Homo sapiens: one gene and its partners. The protein of the gene in region 2 purifies or fractionates together with the protein of the main gene of each other region. This does not show direct contact. Each region holds a gene or a part of one and is shown on either strand. Other genes may lie near its edges. The genes, in order: MRTO4, GTPBP4 and PRKRA.

The links.
Region 1: the proteins of GTPBP4 (region 2) and MRTO4 purify together in Homo sapiens (affinity purification with mass spectrometry; 4 studies listed by BioGRID and IntAct, with this or other methods). This does not show direct contact.
Region 3: the proteins of GTPBP4 (region 2) and PRKRA purify together in Homo sapiens (affinity purification with mass spectrometry; 2 studies listed by BioGRID and IntAct, with this or other methods). This does not show direct contact.

Annotation. Positions count from the first base shown.
Region 1 is NC_000001.11:19,254,805-19,258,404, reverse strand, and holds part of MRTO4 (mRNA turnover protein 4 homolog), read right to left. Parts: coding exon 3,565-3,600; intron 2,458-3,564; coding exon 2,354-2,457; intron 1,342-2,353; coding exon 1,260-1,341; intron 952-1,259; coding exon 884-951; intron 573-883; coding exon 421-572; intron 1-420. UniProt on the Homo sapiens protein: Component of the ribosome assembly machinery. Nuclear paralog of the ribosomal protein P0, it binds pre-60S subunits at an early stage of assembly in the nucleolus, and is replaced by P0 in cytoplasmic pre-60S subunits and mature 80S ribosomes.
Region 2 is NC_000010.11:1,005,426-1,009,249, forward strand, and holds part of GTPBP4 (GTP-binding protein 4), read left to right. Parts: intron 1-392; coding exon 393-482; intron 483-1,592; coding exon 1,593-1,703; intron 1,704-3,532; coding exon 3,533-3,610; intron 3,611-3,824. UniProt on the Homo sapiens protein: Involved in the biogenesis of the 60S ribosomal subunit. Acts as a TP53 repressor, preventing TP53 stabilization and cell cycle arrest.
Region 3 is NC_000002.12:178,437,469-178,441,292, forward strand, and holds part of PRKRA (interferon-inducible double-stranded RNA-dependent protein kinase activator A), read right to left. Parts: intron 2,776-3,824; exon of another isoform or gene 1,399-2,775; intron 1-1,398. UniProt on the Homo sapiens protein: Activates EIF2AK2/PKR in the absence of double-stranded RNA (dsRNA), leading to phosphorylation of EIF2S1/EFI2-alpha and inhibition of translation and induction of apoptosis.

The DNA of each region.
Region 1 (3,600 bases), on a different chromosome or scaffold from region 2:
GGGAGGAATCCAGTCAGCCACCTGCCCTCCCCACGGCTCCAACACACACTGGGCAGTGGCTGTCTCCCTGAGGTCCCTTTGATTTGCCGCAGCCTCGACCTCCTGGGCTCTAGTGATCCTCTTGCCTCAGCCTCCCATGTAGCTAGGACCACAGGCACACACCACCATGGCTGTCTAATTTTTTGACTTTTTTTTTTTTTAAACAAGCGCAAGGCCCCTGATGGGCCTCAAGGGCTGCATTTTGGCTGTAAGTTACTGTCTGCTTTCACCCCCACTGTGAGGCATGCACTCTTAGCCCCATTTTCTCATGAGAAAATGGAAGCTTGTAGAAATAACTTGCTCAGCTAGAAAGGGATGAGCTTGCAGGCCCGTGCTCTTGGACTCTAGGCTGTGACCTTTTGGCTCCAGGGCTGCCCATACCTCTCTTGAGGGCGGTGGGCAGGCCCAGCTGCCTGAGCTGTGGCTCCATGGAGTGGGGGAACTGCTCCAGGGGCCCTGGATCCAGGCTCACAGTGAAAGCTGCTTTGTTACCAGCTCGGGCGTAGTCCATTTCTGTGTATTTCGTGAACCACCTAAGGGAAAAGAGAAGTGGTAGGAGGAGATGCTCCTGGCCACGCCACCAGCCCATGAGTCAGGCTCCCCCAAGTGTCCCGTGGCCCTGGGCCTTCCCCCATCACAGACCTTGGCTGCTGGCCAGCAGCCAGCCCAGAGCACCATGCTGGAGAGGACAGAGAGGGCTGTGGTCCCAGGCCACTAGCTCAGTGACAGGCTTCCAGGAGCAGTTCCAACTTGATGCCACATATGGAACGAAGTTCCTGCATCATTCCCTCCCTGAAATCCCCTCTCACCCGCCTCTTTCCCTCCGTTCCTCAGCAGTACTTACTCATTCACCTCCTCCTTTGTGCGGTTGGTGAACAGGAGACCCACCTCACCCCTCAACCTTTTGCTGACCTACAAATCAGGAGTGAGGACAGCTTGGTCACATTAGAGCAGTGGTTCTCTACTAGGCACGTTTTTGCTCACCGGGTACATTTGGCAACATTTAAAGACGTTTTTGGTTGTCATAGCAGGAAGGAGTGGGAGGCAGGAAGCTGCTATTCCTTGGGTCCGGAGGTGAAGGGAGAACCCAGAGCTTTAAGCCAGGCCCTGCTCTCCCTGAGCCTCCGGCCTGCCAATGGCTGGGGGAGGCTGTCACATGGGAGTAGTGGGAGAGAGGGCGGCTTTGCCTTAGCTCCACCCCGTGAGGGCCAGAGACTTACCTGGTGCAGGTTGTCTTTGTATTCATCAGATGGGCTCCGACCCAAGGCCACCATCATCACCTTGTTTTTGCCAAAGAACATCCTACCAAGCAAGAGAAAGAGCATTCTGTGAAGGAAGAGCCCTGCCCTCCCCATCCCTCAGCAACATGCAAAGTAGCTCCGGTCCCCAGTGAGCTCAGGCCCAGGCTGAGCCAGTGGCACCCACTTCTCCATGCTGCCTGGCCACACTGTCCCCACGTTGGGGTCCCTTTCATTATGTTCCCACCCACAGACTCCTGACATGGCAACATTTTGTCTCCCAGCCCATCACGAGCATCATGTACCAGTTCTCTATCTGGATGTATGCGGGAGGCATGTTAACAGCCTGAACCAGAGCTGGTGCGGCAAGAGACCACCACCAGAGCCACCTGCCCCAGGACAGAAACTTGCCATGTGGCTCCTGCATCCTGCTCCCAGGTCACTGTCTGTGTCGCAGTGTCCCTACTGACATTCTAAAACTGGTGTGATGCTCCTAAATGGCCCACAGTCCAGGGTTAAAGGGCCACTTCTCCGGAAAGGCCCACCTCTCAAACATCTCCTGAGCAACTGCCAAGTCCTGCCCCTAGGAGCTCAGTGCAAAATCTGCTTTTTGAGGTGGAGTTTCACTCTGTCACCCAGGCTGGAGTGCGATGGTGCAATCTCAGCTCATTGCAGCCTCTGCCTCATGGGTTCAAGTGATTCTTCTGCTTCAGCCTCCTGAGTAGCTGGGATTATAGGTGCCTGCCACCATGCCCGGCTAATTTTTGTATTTTCAGTAGAGAAGGGGTTTCGCCATGTTGGCCAGGCTGGTCTCAAACTCCTGACTTCAGGTGATCCCCCTGCCTCAGCCTCCCAAAGTGCCAGGATTACAGGCGTGAACCACCGCACCCTGCCCAAGACCAGCTTTAACAGTGAAAAGGAAGTGCTCTTCAGTGGCAGGTAGCACTTTGTCCTTATTAAGGTGTCAGCGGCATGACCCAGGCACCTAAAGGGTCAGAAATTGCTCCTGTGCTTTGACTGAGAGCAGCCTGGCCGGGTCCCCACTCAGAAGGGCCTTCCTCCCCCTGCCCGCTCACCGGCTGTGCTTCCAGGCGTTCCGGATGTCCTTCAGCTTGCTGTTCCTCATGTTGGCCACAGAGAAGATGAAAAGGTACTTGTAGGTGTCCACACATTTCCGAAGCTGTGGGACAATTCACGAGGCTCTGAGTTCAAGCAGCAGCATACAACGGGCACTACTCTGGCCTCAGATGAGAATGAATCTGCTCTGGGCCCCTGACAACTATGGAAACTGGAAGAACTGGAGGCCTCTAATTTGGTTGTCTCCTACCTCCATTACTGAAATTAGGATCCCTAACCACAGGGGAGGCTGAGCCATGGATCTACACCCCACGGCCTTTTCCAGGTCTCTCACTTATTTATGACCAACAGTGGAACTGATCATCAGCTGTTAACCTAGAAACATTCACCCACATTAGGAAGGGTCCTGCTACATGGAAACACATGGAGCCTCTCTGTTATAAGGGGAGGCAGCTGATCGGTACTGCTCTGCACGTGGTGCTGGCCAAAGCCACCATGAGGCAGCCTCTAGGAGTGGAGTCATTGTGCAGGAGGAGACTGTTTCACCCAGCCTGCAGCCCAGGTTGGCAGGTCAGAAGCTGTACAGACAGTGGGTTGGTGCAGTCACCTACACCTGGTAAATCTCCCAGCTCTTTTTTTTTTTTTTTAAAGACAGGGTCTCACTCTGTTGCCCAGGCTGCGTACCACCACGTCCAGCTAGTTTTTTTTTCTTTTCTTTTTGTAGAGATGAGGTTTTGTCATGTTGCCCAGGCTGCTCTTGAGCTCCCAGACTCAAGCTGTCTGACCCACTTGGCCTCCCAAAGTGCTGGGATTACAGGCGTGGCCCACCATTCCTGGCCTCCTGTTTTTTGACATTAGGCAGGCTAACAAATCTCTGTAAGCTTCAGTGACCCCAAATGCAAAACAGCAACATCATCACCTAGTACCCACATCACAGGGATGTTATGAGGATGGAGTGGAACAACGCATAAGAAACACAGTGCAGGACAGGGCACAGAGTACGAGCTAGTCAAAGCTGGAAATCATCACTATGGAAGTTTTTGCTGGTGCTGCTGCTGGAGGAAAAAGGCCTGGATTGGCAGCTTGGAGATTTTTTTTTTTTCCCCACTAGTATGTTCCCCTGGCCAACAGTCCTATCCCTGGCCAACAGTCCTATACCTACCTTTATAAACCAAACAATTGCAAGCTCTAGAAAAGAACAACCTCTTACCTCTTCTATCAGGTTTTGTTTCAATTCCAAGCCTTT
Region 2 (3,824 bases):
GAGCCACCGCGCCTGGCCCCTGGTGTTTTCTTTGGGCTGTATTTCATCGTCTTGCGTTTTTCTGCTCCCCAGGGTGCCTGTTACTCCTGTGATGCCCTCTGGAGCTCCCCCTCAGTTATTAACATGTAGTTGTTCGTTATTCTGATTGCCTTTGTTGTGGGGGACAGATGTGAGGGGCTACTAGTCGGCCATCTTTTTGATGTCATTTGTGTTTTCTTGATCATAGAAGAATATGAAGAAAATAACTGTTTTTAGGATATGTCTGTTTTTTAAGACTTTGAAACAACCACAGATGTTCACATTTGCAGCCTCCATTTGCAGAACTGTACAGTTTGTTCCATAGGGAACTGGAAATGAATAATACATCTCTCGTTTTTTCTTTGCATTCCCAGAAAATATTTACAGATTTGCAGTCTGAAGGATTCCCTGTAATAGAGACCAGCACCCTGACTGAGGAAGGTGTTATTAAAGTTAAAACAGAGGTCAGTGCTGCCTTAAGTCAGGTATTAGTCTTTTTACTGTCTCTTGTTTGATTCAAGTCAGTTGTGGGGAGAAAATAGTTTTCTTTCTAGACATTGTTAACACTTGGAGCCCTCGCAGTAGCGAGGCGGGTGGCGTGCGAGAGTGGGGCGTGAAGACAGACCCTTCTAAGACCCACTTTGCCCCCCGTGGACAGTGGGTTGTGAGGGGATGCTTTGCTCTTCTCACCCCAAACAACTTTACCCTAAAGCAGCTGTTGTCTCTGGCCTTTTAATATTTCGGTAGCAAGTACAGTGAAAATTATTTTTATGGAACCTGTTCGAAGTAGAAGGGAGAAAAGTCTGAAAAGCAGAACAGCTTTTGCAGGAGGCAGTCCGCTGCTGGATTTCACATGCTGTCCTAATTACTTTGTATTTCATGTTGTTTTTATCTCAAATAAAAGGACATTTCTGGCCAGGCGCAGTGGCTCACGCCTGTAATCCCAGCACTTTGGGAGGCTGAGGCGGGTAGATCACCCAAGGTCGGGAGTTCGAGACCAGCCTGGCCAACGTGGTGAAACTCCGTCTCTCCTAAAAATACAAAATTAGCCGGGCGTGGTAGCGCATGCTTGTAATCCCAGCTACTCGGGAGGCTGAGGCAGGAGAATCGTTTGAACCTGGGAGGCGGAGGTTGCTGTGAGCTGAGATCATGCCACTGCACTACAGCCTGGGCAGCAAGAGCGAGATACCATCTCAAAAAAAAAGATGGCACTCCTGATGCCATGGTCGCACTCAGGATTTAAAAAGATGGCACTCCTGATGCCATGGTCGCACTCAGGAATTTGTTGCTCGGTTAGAGTCCTGAGGGGCAACATTGCCTCCGGTTCGTGAAGGGCAGTTGGAGGGCACCGTCTGTGCAGAGGGTCACTGTGGTGGGAGAGAGGCCCAGGCACTGGAGATGCACCTTCCCTCAGGGCCGCTTCCACCTGGGCCTCAGAGAATGTGGCCCCCTACGTGTTAGTTACCTTGAGGGAAAAGGCTCAGTGGCTCTGATCTGTGGCTCCTCCTGGAACCTGTAGCTGGAGGCTGCTGGAGGATGCGTTTGTGACTGTGCCTTCTTTTTTACGTTATTAGGCTTGCGATAGGCTTTTGGCTCATCGAGTGGAAACCAAAATGAAGGGAAATAAAGTGAATGAGGTGCTGAATAGACTGCACCTGGCTATCCCAACCAGGAGGGACGATAAGGTAAGACGGCCCCTGGGACAGCCGTGGGCTCACAGTACTGTCAGCAGGTGCTGTCTGCGTGCCTTTTCCAGAAGCCTCCCATCCAGCTTCACACACTCGCAGGTGGATATTGTGGGTGGGCCTCAGTTTCACCTTCTTGCTTACATAAAGGATCGAGAAGGTGAAGAAAGTGCAGAACGCCACATGGCACCCGTTTCCCACTGCATGACGTGGTCACTGTTAGTTTATCCTTCCAGAAATGTTTCTGATATAGAAGATTAGTTTCTAAAAAGTTCTTTAAACACAGATGGAAATCTGTTTCATTCTTTAAATTTTCATTTTTTTGGCTGGGGGAAGTAGCTCACGCCTGTAATCCCAGCACTTTGGGAGGCCAAGGTGGGAAGATTGCTTAAGCCCAGGAGTTCTTGACCAGCCTGGGCAACATAGTGGGACCCTGTCTCTATAAAAAATAAATAAAATAAATTTTCATTGTTTTGTCCATTGTGAATGGGCACACATCGTTACGCTGTGTCTTCATGTTTTACTGCAAATGTGTCTGCACTTCACCATGTGGTGTTGACAACGTTCCTGTCCCACAGACGCCTTCCTGGTGTGTGCTGCACTGACGCTGGAGGCTGTGTCCTTCCCTCTGTCTTTCCTTGTGTCCTCGGCGTGGTCGGGCACTGACTGTCAGTCTTGTGTAAAGATGATTTTATTGTTGTGTGTTTATGTAATGCTGGGTGCGGTTGAGCATGTTTGTCTGCTTATTGGCCTTTTCAAAGTTCTTTAGGCTGTTTATCTTTTTCTCGCTGATTTGTTACTTTTGTATTACAAAGGTTGGATTCTTGTCAGATACATTGCAAATTTTTTTCTCTTTTTGTCACTTGCCTTTTTAACTTCAAATGTGCTGTACATTTTTGAACTATTAACATATATTAATTTTTTTTTCTGGGTGTTCAGGTTTGCATTGTACATAGAAAGGCTTACCATTCATTCCAAAGTCATTTTAAAAGTATCTTTTCTTGCTGGGTGCAGTGGCTCACGTCTGTAATCCCAGCACTCTGGGAGGCCGAGGCGGGTGGATCACCTGAGGTCAAGAGTCTGAGACCAGCCTGGCAATCATGGTGAAACCCCATCTCTGCTAAAACTACGAAAATTAGTCGGGCGCGCACCTATAATTCTACCTATTCAGGAGGCTGAGGCGGGAGAATCGTTTGAACCTGGGAGGTGGAGGTTGCAGTGAGCCGAGATCACTCCACTGTACTCCAGCCTGGGTGACAAGAGTGAGACTCTGTCAAAAAAAAAAAATTATCTTTTATACTAGCATTAAAAATTAGCTTTTTTGGATAGTCTTCACCGTGTCTTGAGTTGGTTATGTTGTGAGGGTGGAGGTTGCACTCCGTTTCAAGTGGTCGGCATTTCTGACCTGAGTATTGGAAATTTTATGTTTCCATTGAATTCTTATATGCACTTGAGTTTATGTCTAAATTTCTTTCATCTGTTGATCCAGTGTTATTTCTTACCACTTTCTTCTTCCATAATTTTTCATGATAATCATGATTTCTGTTTTTCCTGGATAAACTTTGGAATCACTTTGTGGAGTCCTCCTGGTCTCTGTGCTCAAAGTGACCCTGAACCCACTCCTCTCCCCTAAAATAATCTGTTGGTTGTTAATTGGTCTCGGTATGAACCCACTCCTCTCCCCTAAAATAATCTGTTGGTTGTTCATTGGTCTGGGTATGGTTTTCTGTTCCCCTTGCACGTAGGGAATTTGTTTCTACTTTTTCGGCTTTGTAAGTTTCTCATTCAGCAGGCATTTCACATAAATATTTTATATGGGATCTTCTCAGGAGAGGCCCCCTTTCATCCCTGAAGGAGTGGTGGCTCGCAGGAAGAGGATGGAAACTGAGGAGTCCAGGAAGAAGAGGGTATGCTGCCGAAGCTCTCGCCCAGTGTTCTCATGGGGGGAGGCAGGCTGTGTGTGCCCATCGTGGGGGCCTGGGGCATCGAACAGGAGCCGCGGGTGCCCAGACACTGGCCCCGTCAGGCTGCGGACACAGCAGTGAGTCCCCCTGCAGAAGCCTCTCTCATGGGGCTCTTTGGCCTGAGGGAAGATGGCCGTGAACCAAATGCATGAGTGGG
Region 3 (3,824 bases), on a different chromosome or scaffold from region 2:
CTGTATTTACCTTACGGATCTCCAACTGTGAGCTTTAGGTTGTTTCTAGTTTCTTGCTTTTACTAGCAATAAACACTCTTTTGCACTTGAATGAGTTTCTCTGTAGAATTATTTCTAGAAGTGGAACTGCTAAGTCAAAGAACATGTACACTTTTAATTTTGATAAATACTTCCAAACTGATTTCTGAACCAATTTATACTCCTACCAACTGTCTTGGAGGGGGCTTGTTTTCTCATACCCTCACTAATACCAGCTATTATCAAATTTTGTAGTTTTTGCCAATCTAAAAGGTGAAAATATTTTATCTTGCATGAATAAAGTTGAATATTTTTTCTTTTTTTCCCTTAATCGTTTGCATTTCTTCTACTGGGTTGTCTTTTTAACTGATGCATAAGAGCTTTTTAAATTTTCTCTTTTTTAAGAGTTAGGATCTTGCTGTGTGGCTTAACTCTCAAACTCTTGGGCTCTAGCAGTCCTCCCACCTTAGCCTCCCGAGTAGCTGGGACTACAGGCATGTGCTGCTGTGTGCAGCAGATGTGTACAAAAGAGCTTTAAAGGTAGTACTGAAAACAGTTCCTTTATAGTTCTATGTTGAAAATAATTTCTTCCCACTTTTTTATTGTCTTAATTTACAGATTTTTTGCTGTGCAGTAGGTTTTATGTTGTCAAATGTATTAATCTTTTAACCTAGGTTTTAAGTTAAAATGCTTTCCCCATGCTAAGATTTTTAAAAAGAAAAACTCTTCCATGTTTCCTAATATTTATACTGTTTCAAATTTTTATGTTCAAATCTTTGATCCATCTGAAATTCACTTTGGTGTAAGGAATAAGGAAGCATTCTAAATAGATGTCATACACATCAACAAATATATATATATAGCCCCCACCCAAATGTGGATGTAAACTGTTTCTACATCATTATTGAATAATCCATCCTCTCACCCACTGATCTGAAATCTCACTGTTGCTATATACTATGGTCCTATGTGGATTAGCATCTACGCCTGGATTCTCTATTCGCTCCTCTGACTATTCCTGGCCCAGTAACTTGTCTGACAAGTTCAGTTTTACAGTATGTTTTGTTCTCTAGTAAAGCAGCACACCCTTGCTCTCCCAACTCTTCCTTTTCAGTTTTCTTGGCTATTCTTGAGGGTTTTTTTCCAGATAAACTTCAATAAACGTGTATCAAGGTCCAAAATGAACGCTGGTAGGTTTTTTTTTTTTTCGAGTTGGGGTCTCACTCTGTCGCCTAGGCTGGAGTGCAGTGGCGTGGATCTCTGCTCACTGCAAGCTCCGCCTCCCGGGTTCATGCCATTCTCCTGACTCAGCCTCCGGAGTAGCGGGGACTACAGGCGCACGCCACCAGGCCCGGCTAATTTTTTTTTTTGTATTTTTAGTAGAGACGGGGTTTCACCGCGTTAGCCAGAATGGTTTCTATCTCCTGACCTCATGATCCGCCCACCTCGGCCTCCCAAAGTGCTGGGATTACAGGCGTGAGCCACTGTGCCTGGCCAAACGCTGGTAGGTTTTGAGTGAGACCACATTACATTTAAATATATTTACAATGTTTTCTGCTCTATTCTTTAGTAGACTTTTCCTCACGTGGTCCTACGCATTTCTTTCTAAGTTTATTTTCATATAGCCTATCCCTGTCTACAATTTAAATTGGGATCTTCTATATTCTAGTTATTATTTGTAAATAAGAAAACTACTGACTTTTTTCTAGTATATTTTCTCAGAATAGGATTTTCTATTTTTCTATAAAATGACCAATGTTATGAAGCTTCGTAAGTTTTGTCAAAGTGATACACACATACAGCAAAAAATCAAATAGTACAGAAGTATAAAAGCAACAACCTCTGCCTTGCCCCTTCTCCACCTTCAGGTCCCCTTCCCAGATACAATAATTTTTAGCTTTTTATTTTTAATTATTCTGGTTGTTACCTACATAACTCTGGGCAATATGGAAAAGTTATTGATTTTGTATATTAATTTCATAATCAGTTACCTTGATGAATTCTCTTGTTTCTAGTAGTTTTTCTTTAGGGTTTTAAAGGGATACAATCATACCATTTGCAGTTAGTAACCATTTTATCTCCTCTTATTTCCAACTTCGTACTGTTTTCTCTTGTCTAATTTGTTTTTAATTGGTGGGTACTTCTAGAACAAGGTTAAATAAAAGTGGTGTTGGTGGGCGTCCTTATTTCTGATATTAATGGGAATGAGTATAATGTATAAATATATAACCATGATTTTGGTTTTTTTCCAAGTTTTTATCAGTAATGATTGCTGAGTTTTATCAAAATTTTTTTGGCATCCATTGAGAGGATTATATATTACTCTTTGACACATTAATGTGGTTAATTAAAGTAACCAACTTATTAACCTTGAAATAGTCTTAGTTAAATAAACCCTACTTGTCAATGCTATATCATTATTTTAATATTGTACTGAACATTTTACAAAGGTGTTTCACCATAAGGCATATTGATCTGTAATTTTTTTTTTTCTGTTGAACTTGCTATTGTCAGGTTTTGGTGTATTATGTTGGTTTTGGAGAATAAATTTAAAAGTTTCCTTTATGTTATCTATACATTGCCTGAAAAGAGTTTAAATAGCATTGAAAATGATCTCTTCTTTGAAGATTTAACCAATTTCACCTGTAAATCTGTCTGTGCTTTGTAATTTTGGTGATACTGTTGACTCAAATTCCAAAAGCAGTAAATGCAGTGTTTTATATTTTTCTATTAAAAATGTAAAATCAAATTATATTACTCATTTGTATATAGTCTTTGATTTTTTTCTAAAGAATGAGCCCTTATTTTATCATAAGCTCAGTGAAGAAGTTGCTACAGTTGTACTTTTTTATTTCCCACCTAATACACTACTCTCAGATAATGTACCACATGACACACCTATCTGTGAATATCAGAATCTGAAGTTATATATCATGTGTAGGCCAATCTCTTAAGCTCTGAATTTATTTGTTCAGCTACTCGATATATTCACTTAGCTATTCCATAAGCTATTCCATAAGCACTTCAAATTCAATATATTTAGTTCATTATCTGCTCCCCTCTTGCTATTGCCAAGTTTAAAATAGTAATTTCCTCCCTTTCCCTTGCTTCCCACATCCAATCAATTACCATGCCCCTTTACCTCAGTTTTCTAAATAACTTTAAAATCTACCCATCTCTCTCCATTTTCCCAGCCACTACCTTAGTTCAAGCTGTCATGTCTCACGTGTCTTCTGTAACAGCACTCTCGCAGGTCTCTTTGATCCTAATTTCACTCACTTACCATAATGCAGCCAAGTGATTTCCTTGTAATGTATAGACTAGATCCTGTCCTTCCCAGATTAAAATTCTTTAATGACTTTGTACTACCCTTGGGATAAAGTTCACTTTCCTTATATAGGGGTCCCTTTAAGATTTAATCCCTCTTTACTTTGCTGGCCTCATTGAGACTCCCTCCCTCCAACACTATGTTCTACACACAACAAATCACTTAGGGCTCCTAGACTGCATACGATGTTTCACTCCTGGCCTTTGCACACGCTTTTTCTTCTCTCTGGAATTCTTTTCCCCCATTCTACAGGTCTTGGCTTAGACATTACTTCTTCCTGGAATCTGTCTCCAAACCTGTTTTTGTTGGATGCCTTCTTCTATGTTCCCACATCACACTCTGTAAGGACTAGCCTATAGAATTCCTTCCTTTCAGTAGTCTATAAACTCCTTAGAGGCAGGGACTGCTTATTCACTGCACCCCAGTACCCAACACAACACTTAGCACACAGTATGAGCTCACTAAATGTTTGCTAAGT